Homo sapiens: one gene and its partners. The protein of the gene in region 3 purifies or fractionates together with the protein of the main gene of each other region. This does not show direct contact. Each region holds a gene or a part of one and is shown on either strand. Other genes may lie near its edges.

Evidence for each region.
Region 1: the proteins of CCNJL (region 3) and TATDN2 purify together in Homo sapiens (affinity purification with mass spectrometry; 2 studies listed by BioGRID and IntAct, with this or other methods). This does not show direct contact.
Region 2: the proteins of CCNJL (region 3) and ARHGEF1 purify together in Homo sapiens (affinity purification with mass spectrometry; 2 studies listed by BioGRID and IntAct, with this or other methods). This does not show direct contact.
Region 4: the proteins of CCNJL (region 3) and MTO1 purify together in Homo sapiens (affinity purification with mass spectrometry; 3 studies listed by BioGRID and IntAct, with this or other methods). This does not show direct contact.
Region 5: the proteins of CCNJL (region 3) and TROAP purify together in Homo sapiens (affinity purification with mass spectrometry; 3 studies listed by BioGRID and IntAct, with this or other methods). This does not show direct contact.
Region 6: the proteins of CCNJL (region 3) and RSPRY1 purify together in Homo sapiens (affinity purification with mass spectrometry; 2 studies listed by BioGRID and IntAct, with this or other methods). This does not show direct contact.
Region 7: the proteins of CCNJL (region 3) and OS9 purify together in Homo sapiens (affinity purification with mass spectrometry; one large-scale study listed by BioGRID and IntAct). This does not show direct contact.

Annotation. Positions count from the first base shown.
Region 1 is NC_000003.12:10,258,459-10,261,958, reverse strand, and holds part of TATDN2 (3'-5' RNA nuclease TATDN2), read right to left. Parts: intron 1,823-3,500; coding exon 1,289-1,822; intron 1-1,288. UniProt on the Homo sapiens protein: Mg(2+)-dependent 3'RNA exonuclease and endonuclease that resolves R-loops via specific degradation of R-loop RNA stucture. Shows no activity against D-loop and minimal activity against the RNA strand of an RNA-DNA hybrid duplex oligomer.
Region 2 is NC_000019.10:41,893,184-41,896,683, reverse strand, and holds part of ARHGEF1 (rho guanine nucleotide exchange factor 1), read right to left. Parts: intron 3,411-3,500; coding exon 3,381-3,410; intron 2,478-3,380; coding exon 2,378-2,477; intron 2,234-2,377; coding exon 2,137-2,233; intron 2,059-2,136; coding exon 2,023-2,058; intron 1,336-2,022; coding exon 1,198-1,335; intron 308-1,197; coding exon 202-307; intron 1-201. UniProt on the Homo sapiens protein: Seems to play a role in the regulation of RhoA GTPase by guanine nucleotide-binding alpha-12 (GNA12) and alpha-13 (GNA13) subunits. Acts as a GTPase-activating protein (GAP) for GNA12 and GNA13, and as guanine nucleotide exchange factor (GEF) for RhoA GTPase.
Region 3 is NC_000005.10:160,278,065-160,281,564, forward strand, and holds part of CCNJL (cyclin-J-like protein), read right to left. Parts: exon of another isoform or gene 2,846-3,500; coding exon of another isoform or gene 2,789-2,845; intron 2,675-2,788; coding exon 2,461-2,674; intron 1-2,460.
Region 4 is NC_000006.12:73,464,737-73,468,236, reverse strand, and holds part of MTO1 (5-taurinomethyluridine-[tRNA] synthase subunit MTO1, mitochondrial), read right to left. Parts: intron 2,029-3,500; coding exon 1,829-2,028; intron 1,749-1,828; coding exon 1,631-1,748; intron 1-1,630. UniProt on the Homo sapiens protein: Component of the GTPBP3-MTO1 complex that catalyzes the 5-taurinomethyluridine (taum(5)U) modification at the 34th wobble position (U34) of mitochondrial tRNAs (mt-tRNAs), which plays a role in mt-tRNA decoding and mitochondrial translation.
Region 5 is NC_000012.12:49,321,851-49,326,054, forward strand, and holds the start of TROAP (tastin), read left to right. Parts: upstream 1-1,404; 5' UTR 1,405-1,499; intron 1,500-1,753; 5' UTR 1,754-1,758; coding exon 1,759-1,902; intron 1,903-1,994; coding exon 1,995-2,187; intron 2,188-2,296; exon of another isoform or gene 2,297-2,304; coding exon of another isoform or gene 2,305-2,424; exon of another isoform or gene 2,425-2,538; intron 2,539-2,641; exon of another isoform or gene 2,642-2,726; intron 2,727-3,650; coding exon 3,651-3,808; intron 3,809-3,896; coding exon 3,897-4,034; intron 4,035-4,204. UniProt on the Homo sapiens protein: Could be involved with bystin and trophinin in a cell adhesion molecule complex that mediates an initial attachment of the blastocyst to uterine epithelial cells at the time of the embryo implantation.
Region 6 is NC_000016.10:57,189,329-57,192,828, forward strand, and holds part of RSPRY1 (RING finger and SPRY domain-containing protein 1 isoform 1 precursor), read left to right. Parts: intron 1-3,500.
Region 7 is NC_000012.12:57,700,632-57,704,131, reverse strand, and holds part of OS9 (protein OS-9 isoform 1 precursor), read right to left. Parts: intron 1-3,500. UniProt on the Homo sapiens protein: Lectin component of the HRD1 complex, which functions in endoplasmic reticulum (ER) quality control and ER-associated degradation (ERAD).

The DNA of each region.
Region 1 (3,500 bases), on a different chromosome or scaffold from region 3:
AACAAATCTTACACAGACTTAACCCAAAAGGTATTCAAGCCACACAGGGAGGCTGCAGAAAGGGGAAGCTAATGTGTCCCTGGGTGTGGGTGCTTCTGAAGGAGGTATAGAGAACTAAATTCTCATCGCCCAAGCAAGAAGTCCTCAGACATCTAAAACTGAAAAACTGATCAACAGTAAAGATTATTTAGAAACATGGGGTAAGTACTAGAAGAAAGAGCTAAAGATGAGAGAAGCTGCCTGCAGAGCAGTAGTAAAGGATGGGTGGAGACGAGTAAGATGGAGGAATGTGGCCTGGCACAGTGGCTCATGCCTGTAATCCCGGCACTTTGGGAGGCCAAGGCAGGTGGATCACGAGGTCAGGAGTTCGAGACCAGCCTGGCCAACATGGAGAAATCCCATATCTACTAAAAATACAAAAATTAGCCGGTTTGGTGGCGCACACCTGTAATCCCAGCTACTCAGGAGGCTGAGGCAGGAGAATTGCTTGAACCCAGGAGGTGGAGGTTGCAGTGAGCCAAGATTGCACCATCGCACTCCAGCCTGGGCAACAGAGCAAGACTCTGTCCCAACAACAAAAAAAAAAAAAAAAAGAAAAAGATGGAGGAATGCTTCCCCTCAATTATAAGCTATGTTAAAAATCACTAGTTTCCGTCCAATGACATCCTTCCCTTCTTCTCTGGTTATCCAGGTACAAGTCTGCCTAGATAAAGGCTGATTTTCCAGACTCCCTTGCAGCCAGGTGTCAGCCGGGTTTCCCCGCTCTTGTCAACAGCAGATACAACATGTGCAACTCTTGAGCCAAGCTCTTAACAGGGAAGGAATGCACTCTCCTCTTCTCCCCTTCCCACTGGCCAGAATGCCCAGATAACAAACCCTGAGTCCTATCAGAGTATCCATTTCACACCAAGAGATGGACACTGTGTTGAGGGGTGATAGAGAATCAAGACAAAAGGTACCAGTATCTCTGACATGATGGAGCCATCCTTCTTAAGCCAAACTTATATTCTGTTTAAGCCACTGTGATTTTGGCCTTTTACACAGCAGCTAAACCCATATCCTAACATATAAATCCTTCAAAAAAAAAAAAAAGCACTTAGTTTAGGTTTATTAATAACTCTGAAAATCTGAAAAGTATGTTAGAAGAAAACCATCAGTTTGTTCCCTGGAGGCCTGGTTAAGTAAAGTACTATTTTTAATTAGTAACACTTAGGATCAAACTAGAAAGATGGAACACATTTCATCAACAGAACTAAAAAGTCAGATGCCTGGTACAAGCTTTACTCACCTTTTGGATTTCTAAATGAGAGTCAGAGTCATCCAAGAACTCTAGGGGTGGAGAGCATTTGTCAATGACAGTCCTTCGGTCCCCAAGGGGCTCCTCACTGGGTTTCTCTTGAGGGTCTATAACTACTCTCCTGTCATAGAAGCTGCTCCTCTCTGGCACTGTCTTATCCTCCTCCATGCTGACCTCTGGGGTTGCGTCTTTCTCCTTCTGAGCAGCAGTGACTGTGACACTCCTGGCTGCTCCTTCTGCAGTCTTGGCTGGTCCTTCACTCCTGGCTGGTCCTTCTCCATGGCTGGGATGCTCTGCTGCGCTTGGTTTTGCCCGAGTGGCAGCCTCTCCCTTCCTTTTTGGCATCGATTTCCCCAGGATGCCCTGGATAGCCTTCAGGTAGATCATTGTGGAGCCCTGGTCTCGAAGTCTATCCCTCTTCCTTTTCTGGACCTTGTTGGGTTCCTCAATTGTATCATTCTGACCCTCAGCTTCAGCTGCAAATTCAGAGTTTGTGGAGTTATGAGAACTATCTTTGGAATCAACCTGGGAAAAAAAAAACAGAATTGAAAGGGCTGTTCCAAGGGCACTTTCGTACATGAAGCATTTGGCAAATTATAAATCAGTGGTGGTTCTACCAGTCAAAGGGAAAGTGACTGTGGCTAAGGCAAAGGTTCTCTCCGGGTGGTGAAGTGGCACTGTAAGAGGGGCTGATTGCTGCCATTTCTTAGCATTCGCCTTCTCATGCTCAGCAGATGATATCCTTTCACTGCAAGGGGACGGAAGGAGCTGAAATGAACACTCTCATTAAACCAGACTGCAAGCTCCTGGAAGGCAAGGACTACACTTCAGGCAAAACAGCAGCTCAAGCTCTTCCCACTGGAAAGGGCCCTAGAAACCAGCTAGCCCAATCCCATATCTAAGGGTAAAGGAAACCTGAGGACCCAGTGAGGGGAAGGGCTAGCCCCAGGAACTCCAATCCCCCAGTTCTGAGTGCAGTGTTTTTCCCACCATACCCAAAGCCTCCTGAAAGTTCTCTGCAAACACTTCCCCTCAAATAATCAACTTGGTTTTGGAAAATACCTCAGTTTCTCAGTGACTGCACCAGGGTCAGTCAAGATAGACTGCTCCCAACAACAAACCTCCTCCAAGACGGAAGTGAAGCCTCAGCCCCCTCTTGCACCCACTCACTCCAGGACTCCACACAGAAAAAGCTAGACTTTGTTTGCCAGACTATTTTGATGTGAAATTCTAATCCAGTCTAATCCCTGCCGGGTGTAAGAACTCTCCACAAATGTCCTCCTAAGGCCATTCCATAAGCAGTAAACCATTATCCCATTTGCATTCCTAAGTCATTTCTATTAAATTCCTCTCAAAAGTAAATACAGACCAGGTACAGTGGCTCATGCCTGTAATCCAGCACTTTGGGAAGCCGAGGCAGGTGGACTGCTTGAACCCAGGAGGTCGAGACAAGCCTGGCCAACATGGCGAAACCCCATCTCTATAAAACACACGGGGCGCGGTGGCTCATGCCTGTAATCCCAACACTTTGGGAGGCCAAGACAGGAAGATCACTTAGGCTCAGGAGTTCAAGACCAGCTTGGGCAAGGTGTCAAAACTCTGTCTCTACTAAAAATTACAAAAATTAGCTGGGCCATGGTGGCACACGCCTGTGATCCCAGCTACACGGGAGGCTAAGGCACAAGAATCGCTTGAACCTGGGAGGCAGAGGTTTCAGTGAGCCGTGACGGCACCACTGCACTCCAGCCTAGGCAATACAGTGAGACCCTATCTCAAAAAAAAAAAGGCAAAATTGCTTTATATGTATATATTCGCAAACAAGTCTAAAAAGCTAAACTGTTTATAATGGATCTCTTTGGGGAATGCAGGGAAGTAGAAAGAGACTTAGGCTCGGCTGGGAGCAGTGCCTCACACCTGTAATCCCAGCACTTTGGGAGGCCGAGGCAAGTGGATCACCTGACATCAGGAGTTCGAGACCAGCCTGGCCAACATGGCAAAACACTGTGTCTACTGAAAATACAAAACTTAAGCCAGGCATGGTGGCGGGCACCTGTAATCCCACTTACTCAGGAGGCTGAGGCAAAGAATCGCTTGAATCGGAAGGCAGAGGTTGCAGTGAGGCAAGATCGTGCCACTGCCCTCCAGCCCAGGCAACAAGAGCAAAACTCTGTCTCAAAAAAAAAAAAAAGAAGCAAAATAAAAA
Region 2 (3,500 bases), on a different chromosome or scaffold from region 3:
AAAGGGGGGCAATGAGGAAGCAGGAGGGAGATGAGAAAAGGAAAGAAGAAGGGAGAGGAATGGCCAGACCCAGAGAGCAGCAGAGGAGCATGGGGAGCAAGAGCCTGGGACAGGCAGGCACAGATGGCAGCGGTGACCCTGCACCCACCCACCAGCGCCCAGTAAGCCACACCTCCCGCCCCTGCACCCCAGCCTGGGCACCTCTCGGTTTCGGCCCCCTCGTCGGTACTCTCTGGGGGCGCCAAGGACTCCAGGCTCATTGGGCCCTGCGGGGATGAGTCCCCCAGCTCCAGGGGGGCGTCAGCACCTGTGGGGTGGAGGGAGCAGGGCTGGCTGGAAGGCCTCTGCGGCCACGAGACCCACACTCTGGGGGCCTGGAATTGCGGGGGCTAAAGCTACCCAGTGCCTGGCAGACACCACATGGCTGCTCTGTACTTCAGCACGGGACGGACAGATGTTAAGACCTCTCAGAACATGGCCACTAGGGGCAGGAGCATGAAGATGCAACAGAAGTGGGTGCCCCTGTGTGTCCTGGGTGGATGGGGACCCCAGGCCTAGCAAATAGGTCACAAACATCTCTCCCACCCAACCAGACTGCAGCCCCCTGAGGTCGGGAGGGCCCTGGATTCTGTGCTGCCTCCACGTCCATTCATCCTCCCCACCCTCTCATACTCCTTTAGAGAAAAGCAAACGGAGGCTAAGAAAGGGGAGTCATATCCAAGATACTAAATAAACACAAGCAGTCAGCAGAGCTGGTGTGTGAGCCCTGGCCTGGCCATGCAGAGATCCAAGGGCCTGAGGCCACAGCAGTGTAAGGATGGTGAGGGATGAAGCTCATGGGGCTGGCGGGCTCCCCACCTAGGGGGCCAGCAATGCAGCTCAGAGGGTGGACTGGTCATGTACTCAGGGAAGGTTCTGGAAAAGGAAGGGTTGATGGAAAACGTAGTCCAAGGGGGTGGGAGACGCAGCACCAGCAGAGAGGTCAGAGCCTGGGAGCAAAGCTGTGGAAAGGGCAAACTGAGGGAAGGGGAAAGTTATGAATGACAGTGGTGACCAGGAGCAGGGAGAAGTGGATGCTGAGAGCAAAGGGGAGGTGTTGCTGGGGAATGGCTTCTATCTGGGGGTGCCAAGGGGGCAGGCAGCACCCCCACCCTGGATCGCCGGGCCTCATGGAGCCCTGGCCCAGGAAACTCTCACCTGGTTCCCGGTCTGGGCTGTCCAGGGACAGAGGGTGCAGAGAGACTCCAGGGGTGTCCTGCCCAGGAGCCCCGATATTCCGGTCCCGAGAGGGCATCCCCACGCCTCCCTTCCGGTCTGTAGCACCTGGCTTCTCGGCTGGGGAGACAGTGAGGGAGAAAGAGGGAGATAAGAGAACAGTAACTCAAATCCACAACCGCCAGGGGATGCAAGAGGCTGTGCTCAGGCCCTTCCCCACCATGACAAGGAGCCCCTTCCTCCCTCAGACCCAGGAGCCCTCAACCCCTCCTCCCTCAGACACAGGAGTCCAGGCCCCCAGCCCCTCCTCCCTCAGACCCAGAGGTCCAGGCCCCAGGCCTTCCTCCCTCAGACCCAGGAACTCCCCCAGCCCCTCCTCCCTCAGACCCAGGGGTCTAGGCCCAGCCCTTCCTCCTCAGACCTAAGAGTCCGAGTCTGAGCCGCTCCTCCCTCAGACCCAGGGGTCCAGGCCCAATCCCTCCTACCTCGGACCCAGGGGTCCAGGCCCCAGGCCTCCCTCCCTCAGACCCAGGAGCTCCCCCAGCCCCTCCTCCCTCAGAGCCAGGGGTCCAGGCCCAGTCCCTCCTCCCTCAGACCCAGGGGTCCAGGCCCAGCCCTTCCTCCCTCAGACCCAGGAGCTCCCCCAGCCCCTCCTCCCTCAGACCCAGGTGTCCAGGCCCCCATCCCCTCCTCCCTCAGAACCAGGCGTCCAGGTCCCAGCCCCTCCTCCCTCAGACCCAGGCGTCCAGGTCCTAGCCTCTCCCACACAGGCCCCCAGTATGGATGCTATGGCTACAGGTACATTACCATCAACCTCTGCTTTGAGGTGTCGAAAATCTGGAACTGAAACGAGAGAGAATGAGACAGTGAGTGGGAGCAGCTGGGGAAGACAGGGGAGGGCAGAGGCCAGAGCCGCCTTACCCTGGGGCTCTCCCCGGTTCCAGCGGGCGGCATCCAGGATGCTGCTCAGCCCCTTCTTGGTCTTGGCAGGCTCGTCCGACCGCCGGTTCCCCATCACCTGTGAGAGGGCGGGGAGGAAGACCAGGCTAAGCATCTCTGAGACAACAACAAAGCAGAATTTGACGCTAGGTATCCAGAGTCATGAGGCTCCCAGGGCGTCTCTGGAGAGGAAAGGGTCAGGACGGGGCACTGAGGGAAGCACCTTTTTCCGGAAGAAGTTCCTCCCCGACTTCTTGTCTCCACTCTTGGTCCGCACCCCAAGGTGGCGCATGTACAGGCCAATGGCGTTGACCACGGCAGCACTGTAGGGAAGGGACAGTGAGGGCTCAACACACACAAAGACACACACACACACACACACACACACACACACTCACACACACACTCTCTCTCTCTCCCCCTAGAGGCAGAGGCCCGGCCTTCCCATCCTGACCCCACAACTACTTCCTGTGAGACTCTGAGGAGAGATGAGAGGGTTCAAAAGGACAGGGGCAAGGGCTGTTACCCAATGCCCAGGACCCAAGTGTCCAGGCCCCAGGCTCCTCCTCCCTCAGACCCAGGAGTCCAGGCCCCCAGCCCCCTCCTCCCTCAGACCCAGGAGTCCAGGCCCCCAGCCCCCTCCTCCCTCAGACCCAGGAGTCCAGGCCCCCAGCCCCTTCCTCCCTCAGACCCAGGAGTCCAGGCCCCCAGCCCCCTCCTCCCTCAGACCCAGGAGTCCAGACCCCCCAGCCCCCTCCTCCCTCAGACCCAGGCGTCCAGGCCCCCCAGCCCCCTCCTCCCTCAGACCCAGACGTCCAGGCCCCCCAGCCCCTTCCTCCCTCAGACCCAGGAGTCCAGGCCCCCAGCCTCCTCCTCCCTCAGACCCAGGAGTCCAGGCCCCCAGCCCCCTCCTCCCTCAGACCCAGGCGTCCAGGCCCCCAGCCCCCTCCTCCCTCAGACCCAGGCGTCCAGGACCCCAGCCCCCTCCTCCCTCAGACCCAGGCGTCCAGGCCCCCCAGCCCCCTCCTCCCTCAGACCCAGGCGTCCAGGCCCCCCAGCCCCCTCCTCCCTCAGACCCAGGCGTCTAGGCCCCCCAGCCCCCTCCTCCCTCAGACCCAGGCGTCCAGGCCCCCCAGCCTCCTCCTCCCTCAGACCCAGGAGTCCAGGCCCTCAGCCCCCTCCTCCCTCAAACCCAGGAGGCCGCACGCCTCCCCTGCCCCCCTCACCTCTTTTCTTCGTCGGTAGAGATGGTATGTCTGTAGGAGGAAGAGAGATGTTTGTGACATATTTGCTAGGCCTGGGGTCCCCATCCACCCAGGATACATCTCAGGGTTGCTGTCCTGGGA
Region 3 (3,500 bases):
GCCCAGCTAATTTTGTATTTTTAGTAGAGATGGGGTTTCTCCATGTTAGTCAGGCTGGTCTCAAACTTCTGACCTCAGGTTATCCGACTGGCCTGGCTAATATTTTTGTATTTTTAGGAGAGACAAGGTTTCATCATGTTGGCTGGGCTGATCTCAAACTCCTGACCTCAGGTGATCCACCTGCCTCTGCCTCCCAAGGTGTTGGGATTATAGGTGTGAGCCACCGCGCCCAGCCTTCCTGTCTATCTGGAAGCAGATTTAAAAACCTGAGATTGACAGGTGGGGGGGCAAGAACCCCAGCTCTTCTTATCTCAGAATAATTTGGTACCAAATTAGCAGATCTCCAAACTTCCCGAGGCAAGGGGATCCCCCTTGTGGCCCACAATGGCCTGGGGAGAGGGGAGGAGGGAAGAATAGGATTTCAGGCTGTCATGGAAACTTTTCTTCCCTCTGGTCTCTGCAGCATATGGCAGGTGTCCTGAAAAATCTGTTCCTGCTGCCCGAGGCTGTGCTGCCCTCAGACACGTGGGTGGGGGCGTCTGCCTCTCTGTCTGAAACGTCCCCTCTCTCCGCCAAGGTGGCAGCAGCACAAAGGAGTCTCCAGTGTGTGCCTCACATCCCAGCTCCCCAGACAGACACTCGGGGAGAGCTTCCATGGCCCCATGGAAATATAAGTCCCCTGCCCCCAGCGGGCCGCGATGCAGCCCACAGATCACAGACAGCAGCAGGCCAAAGGCCGTGGCGCAAATTTCTCCTGTGCTGCTTGAAATACGATGCCCAGTGTGCCCTCCACAGCCGGAGATGTTTCACAAGCCCCGCAGACGAAAGGGGGCTGCACGTTGATTTGGGGTGCTGAGACAGGCTGGACACCCAGCAAGACTGGCTCGCATGTGTAACAAGGGAATCCAGTTGGCCAAAGGTAGAGAAAAATCACCAAATGTGGGGCTATGAGCCTAAAGCAGCCAATGGGATCACGAACAACAGCAGGTAAAAGGTGCCAGCGTGGAAAACGAGACAGAATTCTGAAAACTCTAAATCTGTGCTTCCGGAACTGGGTGATCGTGCCCATGGGGTTTATGGAAGCCTGCCAAAAGCAGACAAAGCTACAGGAGAAAGTGGGTGCCATAGTCCTGCAGCACCAAGCAGGATGAAGGATGGAGGGGCAGGGAGGGGAAATGAATAATGAAATAGGACACAAACATATCTCAGAGGAGAATGTAAAATCTGACTGTCAAGGATAAAATACCAGATGTCAAAGAAATGTCCTAATTGTACCTGGCCACTTTGAGCCTGAGGCCTCTGGGGCATTCCATTCCTCTGCATTAGGGCAACTATAGAAGTATAGAGGCCTGGCTCTCAAGGAACCATTAGCTCCATTAGTTTCATTGATTACACAGATTATTTTTGAGGTCTTACTATGTGCCAAGCTCCTTTCCATCCCTGAAACTTGCTATCCATGGGGGGTGGTGGTTGTTCATTCAAAGCACATGACGCTGAGGGTCTGCATACTTGGGAGACCTCACCTGCTGAGGGCAGTGGGGGAAGGTTTTCACAGGGATCTAGAGCCTCGGTGATGTTTACCCAGAACCAGGTGGGCAGCGGGAGGGAGGGAGAAGCAATCCAGGTAGAGGGAACAGCATGTGCAAAGCTCTATGACAAGAGGGGGCTTGGCCAGTGTGGCTGGAACCCAGGAAGTGATGAGGAGAAAGGCACAGGGCAAAGAGGCAGGAACTCAAGGGTTGGTCTTTAACCTAAGACTGCCAGTAAACCATGGGATGATGTTAAGTGGAAGGGTGGCATGGCAGAACTGTGTTTTAAGGAGATCATCCGAGTAGCAGCGAATTAACACAGTAATCTCTACCAAGGCAGACAGACAGATGGTCAAAGCTACGCTGTGTTTTTAGTGAGGCCTGTTTGGAAGGTGCAAACCCCAAGAGGGCTGTGCCCAGGCCTGGTGACCACACAATGGGTCCTGCTTAGGTCCAAATCAAGCAGTCACATTTCAAAACACCTTATGAACAGTGGTTGCTAGGGTTCCCCTCCCAGCACGTTCATATCCCCCATACCAGGAAGCAGGAGACAGGAGGTTGAGGGCACAGGTTCTGGCACCAGGCAGTTCTGGGCTCAAATCTTGTCTGCCATATACTACCCGGGCAGCCCAAAACTGGCTTCGTCACCTCTCTGTGCCTCTGTAAAGTGGGGTATACTAAGAGTATCTGCCTCCTAGGGCCACTGTGTGGATTGAGACAAGCTGCTAACATCCTTATCACTTGGTCTGGTACATTAAAGATGCTAAAAAATGTTGCATCTAAAAATGTTGATGCTAAAAAACGCTCAGTGAAGGATGAACATATAAGACGTGCAAAGATCGTCAAAATGTAAAGTGATTTGGAAGCAGCCAGGCGCACTGAGCGGGAGGAGACCGCACAAGCGCGGAGGAAGACGTAGGTTTTCGCTTACTTGCAAGCAGGAGGCAGGAGACGGCCACGGTGTAGAGCTGCTTGGAGGTGGTGACGTTGTAGCGATCCATGAAGTGGTCCAGCAGGTAGACGGCCAGGTGCCGGGCTGCAGGGCAGAGCTGGCAGTGGCTGCTCAGCAGGGTCAGGATGTCCACGAAGAACCGGCGGCTCTTCAGGAGTGGGGAGTGGGCTCGGAAGGTGGGCAGCTTCAGTTCCTGGAGGACAGGCGGGGCGGAGGGGTGACGGTCAGGGCTGCCTCCTGAGAGTCTCGGCTGTCCCAGGAAATGGGACCTCAGGGCCTGAATGGGAGGCAACGATTCCCTCCATACCCTTCTTAGTTTTCCTGCAAGTCCCAGGATGGCAGCCCCGCCTGGGCTATCTCCCATCTGCTTTCACTAAGCACAGGCTCATAAAGTATCAAGGACCTAGAGGATGACAGAGGAAGCCAGTCATTCCTTCCCATGGGAAAGGTTTGCTATTTGAGATACACAAGGCCATAAAGGAATAAAGGCATTGGGGTCAGAGGTCTAAGTCCAAATTCTTTTTTTTTCCCCTAGGGTCTGGTCTGAAGTAACACATCCAAATTCTGGTTCCACTACTCAGCCAAGTTGTGTGACCCTGGTCACCTGCCATCACCTTTGTTTCCTCCTCGAGAGCTGAGAACTAAATTTAAAATGTATGCAAAATGCCTAGCACACCTGTGACCTCTCAGGATCCACATCTAATTCTTTCTGAGGGTAGGATTACGAGAGACGGGTTTTTGAAAAAAATCAACCTAAAAAAGTTGTTGAAATAATAGTACAAGGAACTCCCAAATACCCTTCACCTCAATTCCCTAATTTTTGACATCTGCCTTCTTTTTCTCTACATGCATATACATTTTTTTTCTAAAAGTAAGTTCAGATATCATGATACTTCCCACACCCCTGGGAGGTGACTAGATGACTTTTACTTCTACTTTGCAATATATATACTGCCACATTACCTTATTTTATTTGTCTAACTCAAGAAAAACCAATAAAAGATATCAAACCAACAAAG
Region 4 (3,500 bases), on a different chromosome or scaffold from region 3:
CTGAGGCAGGAGAATTGCTTGAACCTGGGAGGGGAACGTTGCAGTGAGCCAAGATGGTACCACTGCACTCCAGCCTAGGCAACAGAGCCAGACTCTGTCTCAAAAAATGTTAATAGATGGCTGGGTGCGGTGGCTCACAGCTGTAATCCCAGCACTCTGGGAGGGCGAGGCGGGTGGATCACAAGGTCAGGAGAACAAGACCATCCTGGCCAACGTGGTGAAACCCCATCTCTACTAAAAATACAAAAATTAGCTGGGCATGGTGGTACGTGCCTGTAGTCCCAGCTACTCAGGAGGCTGAGGCAGGAGAATCGCTTGAACCCGGGAGGCTCAGGTTGTGGTGAGCCGATATCGCACCACTGCATTCCAGCCTGGCACAGAGTGAGACTCCGTCTCAAAAACAAAAACAAAAACAAACAAACAAAAAAAGTTAATAGATAATGTCTAGAACTGTAAATTAGGAAGTAAAAAGATAAGCCTGCTATTCAGAAATATGGAAGTATATACAATAAGTGACAACTAAAAAAGCTGAAGTGTCTGTCTCCAGGGAAGGAGATGGTTGTTTTCCCACATAAATTTCTAAATTTCTTTTATATTTATTTATTTATTTATTTATTTATTTTGAGACAGAGTTTCGCTCTTGTTGCCCAGGCTGGAGAGCAATGGTGTGATCTCGGCTCACCACAACCTCCGCCTCCTGGGTTCAAGTGATTCTCTGGCCTCAGCCTCCTGAGTAGCTGGGATTTCAAGCATGCGCCACCACACCTGGCTAATTTTGTATTTTTAGTAGAGATGTGTTTCTCCATGTTGTTCAGGCTGGTCTTGAACTCCCAACCTCAGGTGATCTGCCTGCCTTGGCCTCCCAAAGTGTTGGGATTACAGGTGTGAGCCACTACACCCAAACTTATTTTTTATTTTTTTTTGACACAGGGTCTCACTCTGTTGCCCAGGCTGGAGTGCAGTGGCATAATCACAGCTCACTGAAGTCTCAACCTCCTGGGCTCAAGCAATCCTCCCACTTCAGCTTATTGAGTAGCTGAAACTACAGGCACCTGCTACCACACCGGCTAATTTTTGTATTTTTTTGTAGACATGAGGTTTTGCCATCTTGCCGAGGCTGGTCTCAAACTCTGGGGCTCAAGCAATCCACCTACCTCGGCCTCCCAAAGTGCTAGGATTACGGGCATGAGCCACCATGCCCAGACCCTTTTAATATTTTAAGAAAAAATTATATGCATGAGTTATTTTGATAAAAAACATACATAACTCTTTTACATAAAAATATATATAAGCTGTTAAAATATGAATTTTTTAAAAAATTAAAGTCAGAACCAGAAAAAACAGAAATTACAATAGAAAGATGGGGAGAGAGGGAGACATAAATATGCAGATTACAAAGTTCTACACTAAGATGGAACATGGTACTGATGAGCCTAGAATTTGACTGAGCATCATAAATGCCAAGATGAAAAGAGAAACATATTTATTTATATAGTTTTCCTCATCCAGGTAGAGAAAATGCAACAAGTTCCTTGAATAAGCAACATATCTCCACACTTTGCTCTAAAATAAATTTCTCACATGGAATTTGATATGCTGTTATCATACACCATCTATAACCAATACGTACCCAAAACAACCCCACTGACACGGCATTTCCCAGTGTGTTCAGGCTCTGGTTCTGTAAGAATAAGATCTTCTACAGCTCCCTCCTGAACAGTAAGCAGTGGTGTATTCAAGATTTCTTTCTGTCAAAAGAAAATGCCAGTTGAAACATGGTAATTAAACAATCACTATAATCTTTCCTGTGCTCATGCCCTATTCTTACCTGCATGTTCTGTTTATAGAGTTTCCTATCAATCTGAGCTCTCAGACCCCACACAGCTGGTCCCTTACGCCGGTTTAATACTTTATAATGTACACCAGACTGGTCACAGATGCGAGAACACAGGCCATCCAAGGCATCTACTTCCCTCATTAAATGTCCCTTTCCGATGCCACCAAAGGAAGGATTACATGACATCTGACCTAAAGATAATAGACATAAACAAAATAAATATATGAGCACCTTGCACATAGTGACTACTTAATAAGGAAACATTTATACAGGTGACTATAATCATCTCATATGATAAAAAATAGAAAACGTGAAAGATATACTACAAAGAAAATCCCAAAGACCCAATGGGATGCAAAAGTGTCCAGGGCAACCTGGATGACAAACCACTTCCTGAACTTCCTTTTGTTTTTTTTAAGATGGAGTCTCACTCTGTCACCCAGGCTGGAGTGCAGTGGTACAATCTCGGCTCACTGCAACCTCTGCCTCCTGGGTTCAAGCGATTCTCCTGCCTCAGCATCCCGAGTAGCCGGGATTACAGGTGTCCGGCACCACGCCTGGCTAATTTTTGTATTTTTGGTAGACGGGTTTCACCATGTCGACCAGGCTGGTCTCAAACTCCTGACCTCAGGTGATCTGCCCACCTCGGCCTCCCAGAGTGCTGGGATTACAGCCGTGAGCCACCGCGCCCGGCCTGAACTTTCTTTTGAATCTCTTCCTTGATGCATATTTTTACTGTTTCACTAGGTTGCCTTTTCCTTTCAAACATGTAATCCTTACCCCATGAAACCTTTCTAAACCAAGTATACTTGGTTTTTAAATTTGTTCTTTTTTGATACAGCACCAGAGGAATCTACCAAATCAAGCACACTTGTAAGAAGTCCCTAGTCCTTCAACATAAATAAGGACAAAAATAAATAAATAAATAAAAAACAGGGCCGGGTGTGGTGGCTCACGCCTGTAATCCTAGCACTTTGGGAGGCCAAAGAGGGTGGATTGCTGGAGCTCAGAAGTTTGAGACCACCCTGGGCGACACGGTGAAACCCCGTCTCTACTAAAATACAAAAAAATAGCCAGGCATGGCAGTTTGCACCTGTAATCCCAGCTACTTGGGAGGCTGAGGCAAAAGAATCGCTTGACCCTGGGAGGCTGAGGTTGCAGTGAGCCGAGATGGCACCATCGCACTCCACCCTGGGTGACAACAGTGACTCCATCTCAAAAAAAAAAAGAAAAGAAAAAAGAAAAAACAAAGAAGCCCCTTGGCACTGGTTCAGTTACAACCAATTATGTCTTCCATAAATGCCATCTGATATCTCCTTTTTGCACTTACTTTGCAGAATTAAATATAATTAAATTACAAATTTCTTGTGAGTGAAGACCATATTTTATACCTTTCCCTTACATTTACCCAGTCTTACCTGGAGGTCTAAACCCATGTGGTTACCTCAAAAGTTTTTGTGGGAGGTGGAGGGATGGGCAAGTTATGTCAATATCCACATATCCACTGCCACCACATCAAGAATCAAGACCTCCAAAAGTTTTTTTTTTTTTTTTTTTTTTTTTTGAGACAGAGTTTCGCTCTTGTTGCCCAGGCTGGAGTGCAATGGCACGATCTCAGCTCACTGCAACCTCCACCTCCCGAGTTCAAGTGATTCTCCTGCCT
Region 5 (4,204 bases), on a different chromosome or scaffold from region 3:
GTAGTCCCAGCTACTTGAGAGGCTGAGGTTCCCACCTCAGGAGGCCGAGGCTGCGGTGAGCTGAGATCGCACCACTGCACTCCAGCCTGGGCGACAGAGTGAGACCCTGTCCCAAAAATGCATAAATAGTAAAACTAGTGAGAGTGAATGAGAGATGGGATATGTAAAGGGAGTGGGAGGAGTTAAGGAGTAACTCCTCGGTTTCTGGCTTGTGTAAGAATAACTTCTGTGATTGGTGGGGAAAATCCACCAGAGTTCTGTTAAGTGTTGTTCATTTCCTGTCCCCCGTTAGGGGTTACCCCTTCCATCTTAAGCAGGATATTCTAGGATCTCTCAGTCTCACAGCCTTGCCCACCAATAACCAGCAGGTGAGCCCCCTCTCCCCAGACCTCTAGATCTGCAAAAGGCAACCTGGAGGCAAGGAAATCCCCAGCTGTGAGTAGCCATTCAATTCTGGTGCTGTGGTAACTGAGTTCAAAAACAATGAGTCTTGTTACCTACCCGTAAAATGAAAGACACCTCATCAGACACCTCACTGGATTGTGAGGCTCCAAGGAGCACACATATTGTTAGGCTCAGTTCGATTCCCTCCAGCCCTCTCCGCCCGTTTGAAGGCAGTTCCTTATCCCGGAGACAACGTACAGATGTTCTCTCTTTCCCTCTTTATTTTTTTTAAGACAGGGTCTCTGTTGCCCAGGCTGGAGTGCAGTGGCGCGACCACAGCTCACTACAGCCTCAACCTCCTGGGCTCAACACGATCCTCCTGCCTCAGCCTCCAGAGCGGCTGGGACTACAAGCGCGCACCACTGCACAGGGATTATTATTATTATTTTATTATTTTGTAGAGAAACGGGTGGGAGTGGTCTCGCTATGTTGCCCAGGCTGGTCTCAAACTCAGCTCAAGAGATCCTCCCGCCTCGGCGTCCCAAAGTGTTGGGATTACAGGCGCCTGCCACCGCGCCCGGACGCAGATATTTTCTATGGGCATCTGGAATGGCGTCCCCAAAGCTTGGCGCCGTGCTATGGTCAAGCCGGGTCGGGGGCTCGGGCCAGCCTTCAACACCGTTGGCAGCAATCGGAACGATCAACTGTACCCTCAGTACCGCGACCTCGCCCGGTCCTGCCAATGGCCGGCCCCTAGCCGGTCCTGAGGCCTCGCGAGAGCTCCCGTGGCTACGCCTTCCCCGGCCTCGGAACGGCCCCATCCTTCCTCTTTCCCCGCCTCCCAGCGGCGCTCCACTCTCGGATTGGCTGATTGATCCGAGTCAGTTTTTTTCCTCGCCAGAAAGCGGTTCGACAATTGGTCCTTCTTTTGGCCCCTCCTGCGATGCCCGCGGATTGGACGGCTGAGTCTGGCTACGCGGGCCTCCGCGGGAGCGCGACCGGGCCAATCAAGAGCTTGGCGTATTTTACAAACTGAGAAAGTAGCTCCAGCAGCACCCGAGAGGGTCAGGAGAAAAGCGGAGGAAGCTGGGTAGGCCCTGAGGGGCCTCGGTAAGGTAAGGCACGGGGGTCTTGAAGGGAACGAAGGCTGCTGGGTTCATAGGGAGGAGGGCAGTTTGGGGCCCGAGGGCGAAAGAGTAGGCTCGGGGTGTCTGGAGATAGCACCCATAAGAGCGGTCTTGCAGGCGCCGGGGGCTTGTGGGCGCGTGGATTAGGGCGGAGGTATCAGGGATGGCAGGACAGGTGCCCCGAGAACTGGTTGATCTTTGATCTTAGATTCTGCCTGCCTTCTTCCCCGTCTCAATTGTAGCCATCATGACCACCCGGCAAGCCACGAAGGATCCCCTCCTCCGGGGTGTATCTCCTACCCCTAGCAAGATTCCGGTACGCTCTCAGAAACGCACGCCTTTCCCCACTGTTACATCGTGCGCCGTGGACCAGGAGAACCAAGATCCAAGGGTAAGAGGGGCCTAATGGGGGAAGACAGTAGTCACACCAGTAATGCACCCCAACACTAAACCTCACCTTTTTGTCCCCGCTCCCTCCCCTAGAGATGGGTGCAGAAACCACCGCTCAATATTCAACGCCCCCTCGTTGATTCAGCAGGCCCCAGGCCGAAAGCCAGGCACCAGGCAGAGACATCACAAAGATTGGTGGGGATCAGTCAGCCTCGGAACCCCTTGGAAGAGCTCAGGCCTAGCCCTAGGGGTCAAAATGTGGGGCCTGGGCCCCCTGCCCAGACAGGTACCTGTTGGAGCCATGGTAACACGGCCTCCATGGCTGAGTAGGGGACTAGGAAGGGTAAAAGTGGGGTTTTGGGGTTTTGCACTCACTCCTGCTGTCTCCTACTTACTGTGATAGTCCTGGTCCCAGCTCCTGGAAAGCTCTTTGCTCTTAGAAGATCTCCCTTTCCTCCAGCAAAATGTCATCTCGCCAGGTGCCATGGCTTGTACCTGTAATCACAGCTACTCAGGAGGCTGAAGCAGGAGGATCACTGGAGGCCAGGAGTTGGAGACCAGCCTGGATGACAGAGGGAGATCCCATCTCTTTAAAAAATAAATAAATAAATAAATAATAAATATCACTTCTTCTGAAGCCTTTTCCAGTTCCCCATGTCACAATCAGTTGCTCTGTGTTCTCCTAATACTTTGCAGCACTTCTTTTATAACATGTATATACCTTGGCTTGAGTCTGTTACCTGTCTATAGTTTGATGATAGCCTCTTGAGGATAGGGGCTTTGTCTTATTCTTATGGGACCCCAGTGCTTAGAATAGTGTCTTATGTAACATTCTATGAACATTTGGTGACCAGGTGTGGTGGCTCACGCCTGTAATTCCAACACTCCTCCGAGGCAGGAGGATCATTTGAGCTCAGGAGTTTGAGACCAGCCTAGGCAACATAGTGAGACCCCATCTCTTTTTCTCTTTTTTTTTTTCTTTTCTTTTTTTTTTGTGGAGACAGAGTCTTACTCTATCCCTCAGGCTAGAGTACAGTGGCATGATCTCGGCTCACTGCAACATCCACCTCCCAGGTTCAAGCGATTCTCATGCCTCACCCCGAGTACCTGGGATTACCAGCACCTGCCACCACACCCAGCTAATTTTTGTTTTCTTTCTTTTTTTTTTTTTTTTTTTTGAGACAGAGTCTCACTCTGTCACTAAGCTGGAGTGCAGTGGCACGATCTTGGCTCATTGCAACCTCCACCTCCCAGGTTCAAGTGATTCTCCAGCCTCAGCCTCCTGAGTAGCTGGTACTACAGGCGCGCGCCACCAGGTCCAGCTAATTTTTTTTTGTTTTTGTTTTTTGTAGAGATGGGGTTTTACCATGTTGGCCAGGCTGGTCTCAAACTCCTGACCTCAGGTGATCCACCTGCCTCAGCCTCCCAAAGTGCTGGGATTACAGGAGTGAGCTACCGCACCCAGCCAATTTTTGTATTTTTTTAGTGGAGACAGGGTTTTGCTATGTTGGCCGGGTTGGTCTCAAACTCCTGACCACAGGTGATCCACCCGCCTCGGCCTCCCAAAGTGCTGGGATTACAGGCATGAGCCACTGCACCCAGCCATCTATTTCTTAAAAAAAAAAAAAAAAATAAGCCAAATTCAATTGAATGAGTCTCTTGCTCACCTTGTACCTCAAAGTTCCTATGCTAGGGGCCCTATCCCCCTCAGCCTTCCCCCTTCCTTTTCCTTCTCCTCTTTCCTTGCAGAGGCTCCAGGGACCATAGAGTTTGTGGCTGACCCTGCAGCCCTGGCCACCATCCTGTCAGGTGAGGGTGTGAAGAGCTGTCACCTGGGGCGCCAGCCTAGTCTGGCTAAAAGAGTACTGGTTCGAGGAAGTCAGGGAGGCACCACCCAGAGGGTCCAGGTAATGAAACAGGATGTGAGGAGACCAGGCTAGGGGGCACTGAGGGGGGCATCCTGAGCAGTGCTGACAGCCTCTGTTGGTGTCCCAGGGTGTTCGGGCCTCTGCATATTTGGCCCCCAGAACCCCCACCCACCGACTGGACCCTGCCAGGGCTTCCTGCTTCTCTAGGCTGGAGGGACCAGGACCTCGAGGCCGGACATTGTGCCCCCAGAGGCTACAGGCTCTGGTGAGTGCCCTTGAGGGGCTGATAGTCGGTGCTTCTGGGAGCTCCTTCCAGGGACAAAGCTGGGCTCTGGGAGAAGAGGTACCTCATGATGAGGCAAGGGATCCTACTGGGGGAGATGGGGTTGGTGGTGAGGCCTGAGGGTTTGGGGTCCACCTCTGATTCCGTTTTCA
Region 6 (3,500 bases), on a different chromosome or scaffold from region 3:
AGGTATACCAGCATACTCTATGTGGGCTTCTGCTTTTGTCAGCAAAATAACTTTTCATTTAGTAAGTATCAAAGGGAAATAAAAACTTAGCATTTTGTATAATAGTGTGTTAATCTGTAGTGAATCAGGTAAAAACAACAAATCTGAGTTATGTAGCACTGTGGGGCCTGGAGGCTAAAAAAAAAAAAAGTGTGTTTTGTCAAGAGTTTAACAAACAATTATTCTGTATTTCTTTTTTTCTGTTTTTTCTTTTTCTTTTCTTTTCTTTTTTTTTTTTTTTTGAGACAGGGTCTCATGCTGTCTCTCAGGCTAGAGTGCAGTGGTGCAATCACGGCTCACAGAAGCCTCTACCTCCCAGGCTCAGGTGATCCTCCCACATCAGCCTCCCAAGTAACTGGGACTACAGGTGCGAGCCACCACACCTGGCCAATTTTTGCACTTTTTTTAAGACAGGGTTACGCCATGTTGCCCAGGCTGGTCTCAAACTCCTGGGCACAAGCCATCCACCCACCTTGGCCTCCCAAGGTGCTAGGATTACAGGTGTGAGCCACCATGCCTGGCCTCGTGAGCTTAATTTAGTCTGTTGAGAATTGTATATGCTTTCCTTAACAATGAAGTAATTTGTTCTAATGAAGTGGGAAATCCCTTTGCATCTTTTTAAATACAGCTTTCTTTCACACTCTATATAGTTTGGAGAAAATGTTAGGAATTCTTGAAGGTAGTAATCACTATTACACTACTTAAGATTGGAAGTTATGGCTGGGCATGGTGGCTCACACCTATAATCACAACACTTTGGGCGGCCAAGGCGGGAGGATCACTTGAGCCCAGGAGTTCAAGACCAGCCTGGGCAACATGGCAAAACCCCATCTCTACAAAAAAATACAAAAATTAGCCCAGCGTGGTGGCACATGCAGATAGTCCCAGCTACTTGGGAGGCTGAGGTGGTAGAATCTCTTGAGCCTGGGAGGTTGAAGATGCAGTGAGCCACTGCATTCCAGCCTGGGTGACAGAGCAACACCCTGTCTCAAATAAATAAATAGGAAATGTTCTGTATTTTTTAGTAGGATACTTGTAAAGTGGGGTGTGATAGTCTCAGGATTGCAAAATAAGTGGAAAGTCAGTAGTCACCACAAATGGGAAACACAGTGGAACCAGCAATCTATTTCAAAAGAATTATTTGGGGATAATAAACTATGGATTTAGCTTCTCTTCAAGCTTTTGGCATTTTCAAGGCAGTTATCATTGAATTTGGGTAGTTTTTTCCCTGATATTCAAATTAGAAAATTGAAAAGCAGAATAATCACGAAGTAGTAAATGCCGTAACTTGGGCAACAGCCTTTTGGAGGGGACTTTTACAACTTTTAGAAGTGCAAAGGAGTGAATATTTCCCTTTGGTTTATCATTCAGTAAGTCAGCTTTTGAAATCCTTTTCTTGCCAACCTTTGTGAGTAGAGAAAACATACAAATGTGTCCATTCCAAAAGGGAGTGGTTGCTGGTTAAATATGTAAAAGTAGTAACTTTAGATAAATGTGTGGTATATACAAGGTTAAATCAGGAAAAGTTATCTTATAAATAGTGGTGGCCTCTTAGAGAACATTCCGCTTTGTTTCTGAGCTTTTGAAAACTGAGAATACATTTGAAATAGTAAGGAATTTATGTACTCCTTAAATTTGTTAAGGAATGAACTCTGCACATAGCTTTCTTGTTGCTTGAAATTATAGTTTCCAGGCGTAATTTCATAGGTCCTATGTACCTCAAATAGAAGGTTTGAAATACCTTACTCAGCAAGTATATTACCTCATAGTTTAATGTTCAGTGTTAGTTTTTTCTTACCCCTCTACCTCCTGAAGAATTGTTTTCGCTCTTGTGTTCCCTTAATGCAGTGATTCTCAAGATGTGGTTTCTGCCCAGTCCCTCCACATGGGAAATATAGCACTGTTTGTTTGTTTTTTTAAGTTTTTATTGCTTCATAGTTGTTCATACTTAGGTATGCCTAAGGGCTACTTATTAATAACCTACCAAGTGAATTACTAAGGATTACTAAAACATGGTATTCATAACCTAAAACTAGAACAATATTGGAGTTTACTGTGGTCTCTTAATACTTTTTTCGCCCAGGAAGTCTGTCCTGGGAAACCTGGCACCAATACAAGCTTCTCACATGTCATATGCAGAATGGGGATTCCTGCAGTATTCAGGAAGTATGCTTAGTTTGGGGTGCATCATCTGAATTGTCTCAAAATAATGTCAGTTTTCATCATGATTCCTCTTTTTTTATTAGAATTTTTATTTAACTTCATCTTTATCAATTTAATTTATAGGTTTTTTTGTTTACTTTTCATTGTGTGGGCAGGAATATTTATACCAACAATATTTTGGCTTATAATGTAAGACATAAATGTGTTACAATGCAAAGATAGATTCTCTAGTCCCCTTTTGCTATTGCTGATTTGTATAGTCACCTAAAAACTTGCTCACACAGAGGTACTTCAGTGTTACCAAAGTTCCTTTTACACTGGAAAACTGATGGAACAAGAGGCCTCCTTCTAGTAGATGCTTTATCTGTAGTCTTTGGGTAGGGAGCTAAGTTTGTCCCTAACCCCAGCTCCCTTTGTCAGGAGCATGAGGGACCTTTTTCCGTCTTTCCTCACTGCCTGCCATATAAGCATTGGATATATAGTTATTGAATGGTGTTGTCTCAGTTTTTCAAAATGGTAAATATTTTGGAGAGACTTTATGTTACAGATTTTAGAATAAATTCACCTAAGATATTTATTGAATACATATTAGGGTCTAATAAGTATCCAAATGAGTATGCAGTATGAGTGTTTTAGACATCATTTAAAGTAGACATCATTAAGGAAAATGTTGATATTCATGCTGCTTATATATTTTATTTGCTTTTCTTAAGAGCAGAGAGTTTTCTGTAATAGAAAAATCCTTTTCCTTCAGATTTGTGTATATTTGAATAACACATGATCTCCTATTATTTGGCCTCCTGGGGGGAAAACCACAAGTACTACGGAATATTACATTTGTTTTTCTTCCCTGTACTGCAACCGTCATAAGCATTTACCTCAATTCTTCCTTAGTATTTTTTGGGAGTCCAAGGCAAATTTTTCAATCCTTAAGATTTCAGGCAGGGATTATTTACTTCCCCTTTTTTACTATTATTTGCTTCCGGAAATTCCTTACTCTATCCTAGGCCTAAATTTTATTTTTTAGTAAATTATTTGAATGCTGAAAGGATTTGTCTTTTCTCCTTTGTACCATTTTAGGTCAGGACTATATTCTGTAATTCTTTCTGACCACAGATGCACTGCTACTAGGTTAAAAAAGCTCTCAACTTTTTAGAGGAAGGTTTTTCCAGAGACTCTTTTTTTTTTTTTTTTTTTTAAGGTCTCACTCTGTCTCCTAGGCTGAAGTGCAGTGGTGCGATCATGGTTTACTGCAGCCTCGACCTCCCCAGCTCAGGCGATCCTCCCACCCCTCACTC
Region 7 (3,500 bases), on a different chromosome or scaffold from region 3:
GATGGTTCAACATAGGTAAATCAATGTCATATACATTAATAGAATGAAGGGGAAAAAACCCAAATGATCATCTCAACTGATGCAGAAAATGGACTTGATAAATTCAATAACCTTTTCATGTAAAAAAACAATCAACTAGGAATAGGAGGGAATGTCTTCAGTTATTGATAAAGTCCATATAAGAAAAACCCACAGTTAACGTCATACTCAATGGTGAAACATTGAAAGCTTCTCCCTTAAGATTAGGAACAAGACAAGGACAGCCATTCTTTTCATTTCTATTCAACATAATACTGGAAGTTTTAGAGTGATTAGGAATGAAAAAGAAATGAAAGGCATCCAATGGTGTTTTTTATAGAAAAAAAAAAATCTTAAAATTCACATGGAATGTCCAGGGATCCCAAATATCCATAACAATATTAAAAAAAGAACAAAGTTAGAGGACTCACATTTCCTGACTTAAATCTTAATACAAAGCTACTATAATCAAAACAGTGTGATACTGGCAAAAAGACAGACATATTTACCAATGGAATAGTATAGAAAGGCCAGAAATAAACCCTCACATATATGGTCAACTGATTTTTGGTAAGGATACCAAGAATATTCCATGGGGAAAGGACAGTCTTTTCAACAAACGATGCCAGGAAAACTGGATATCCATATTCAAAACAATGAAGTTGGACCATATGCAAAAATTACACCACATACAAAAATTAACTCAAAATCAGCAGCTGGGCACAATGGCACACCCCTATAATCCCACCTACTCAGAAGCTGAAGTAGGAAGCTTACCTGAGCCCAGGAGTTTGAGGCTAGCCTGGGCAACATAACGAGACCCCCATCTCTAAGAAAAAAAAATTAACCTCAAATGAATCAAAGACCTAAATTTAAGAGCTAAAACTATAAAACTCTTGGAAATCAAAATTAAAAGCTTTTGTGCACCAAAGGACACTGCTGATGCAGGAGAATCGCTTGAACCTGGGAGGCGGAGGTTGCAGTGAGCTGAGATCGCGCCATTACACTCCAGCCTGGGCAACAAGAGTGAAACTCTGTCTCCAAAAAACAAAGCAAAACAAAAGATAGTAAAAAGGCAACCACAGGATGGGAGAAAATACTTACAAATCATAGATCTGATAAGGGATTAATATTCAGAATTTATTACATAAAGAACTCTCACAACTCACCAACAAAAACCAACTCAATTCAAAAATGGGCAGAGGATTTGAATAGACATTTCTCCAAAAAAGATATACAAATGGTCACCAAGCATATGAAAAGATGTTCAACATCATTAATCACTAGGTAAATGCAAATCAAAAACCACTATGAGATACTACTTCACACCCATTAAGATGGCTATTACTGAAAAAAAAGAAAAAGAAAACAAAGGAAAATAAGTGATGGAGGTAGTGTGGAGAAACTGGAACCCTGTGCACTGCTACTAGGAATGTAAAATGATGCAACTGCTATGGAAAACAGTTTGGCAGTTCCTCAAAAAACTAAACCTAGAATTACCATAAGGCACATTCTACTCCTAGGTACAGACCCAAAAGAATTGAAAACAGGACTCAAACAGATACTTGTACACCAATGTTCATCGCAGCATTATTCACAGTAACCAAAAGATGAAAACCTATTTGTCCATCCATTGATAAATAGGTAAACAAAATGTATATACAGACAATGGAACATGATTAAGCCATAAAAAGAAATAAAATTCTGATATATGCTACAACATGGATGAACCTTGAAAACACCATGCTAAGTGAAATAAGCCAGACACAAAAGGACAAATCTTGTATGATTTCACTCATGTGAAGTACCTAGAACAGGAAACTCATACAGACAGAAAGTAGAACAGAGTCTGGGAGAGGGAGAAATAGGAGTTATTTTTGTTTGGGATGATGAAAAAAGTTTTGGAAATAGTAGTGATGGTGATAGAACACTGAATGTTTCCACTGAATTGTACACTTAAAGACTGTTAGAATGATAACTTTTAGGTTATATATTTTTTCAATCATTAAAAAAATTGAGGGCCAGGCATGGTGGCTCACACCTGTAATCCCAGCACTTTGGGAGGCCAAGGTGGACGGATCACAATGTAAGGAGTTCAAGACCAGCCTGGCCAACATGGTGAAACCCCGTCTCCACTAAAAATACAAAAATTAGCTGGGCATGGTGGCAGGCGCCTGTAGTCCCAGCTACTCAGGAGGCTGAGGCAGGACAATCGCTTGATCCTGGGAGGCGGAGGTTGCAGTGAGCCAAGATCACGCCATTGCACTCCAGCCTGGGCAACAAGAGTGAAACTCTATCTCAAAAAACAAAACAAAACAAAACAAACAAAAAATTGAATTCACCAATAACATACACTCCTGTAACCCAGTGATTCTACTTTCTAGGTATTTCCCTGGAGAAATTCTTGTACACTCACAATAAGACCTACATTGCAGCACTGTGTATAAGGGCATTAGAGTTGAAACCCAACTGTTTATCAACAGAGGAATGGGTAAGTAAGCAATGAAACACAATACAGACATTAAAATCACTCAACCAGGCCAGGCACGGTGGCTCACACCTGTAATCCCAGCACTTTGGGAGGCCAAGGTGGGTGGATCACTTGAGGTCAGGAGTTCAAGACCAGCCTGGCCAACATGGTGAAACCCCTTCCCTACTAAAAATATAAAAATTAACTGGGCGTGGTGGTGGGCACCTATAGTCCCAGCTACTCAGGAGGCTGAGGCAGCAGAATCGCTTGAACCCAGGAGGCCGAGGTTGCAGTGAGCCTAGATTGCACTACTGTATTCCAGCCTGGGTGACAGAGCGAGACTCTGTCTCAAAAAAAAAAAAAAAAAAAAAAAAAAAAAAATCACTCAACCAGAGTTCCATGTCATGCCATTGAATGGCAAACACACTGATCAGTGAAAAAAACAAGTTGATACTCCTGATGTATAATTTTAAAACACAAAACACTATCTATTGTCTGTAATATATATATCAGTAATAAAAATACAAAACAAACATAGTGAGGGTTGTGGTTGTTTCTGGCGGGAGGGAGAGTGACTAAATATGAAGGTGGGCTTTAGCTATTAGCACAAGCATTTTATTCCTTTTTTTAAACCAGAGATCTGAAACAAATCAGGCAAAACATTAACATCTGTTTAACTTGGCAGTGAATTTATGGGTCTCTATGACATTTTTTTTTGTATAATTGTATGTTTTATAACTTAAAAAAATCTTTGATATCTCTAGAATCTTACTTTATAAGAATTGAGTTGGTCTACTACCCTAGACCTTCCTTTAGAGGCAAATTGCTCTCCCAGGGTTCTGCATCCCAGCCCTGTCCGCATTTTTTTCTCACTTTTTCTACTGTACCTTGATCTCCCTCTCCTCCTTTCCGCTAACATCCACCCAACAGCCTTCAACATGTTCTAGTCTGTTGCATCTTAAAACACACACCAATAAATAGGAATTTATTTAATTCCATATAGCTAACCAGT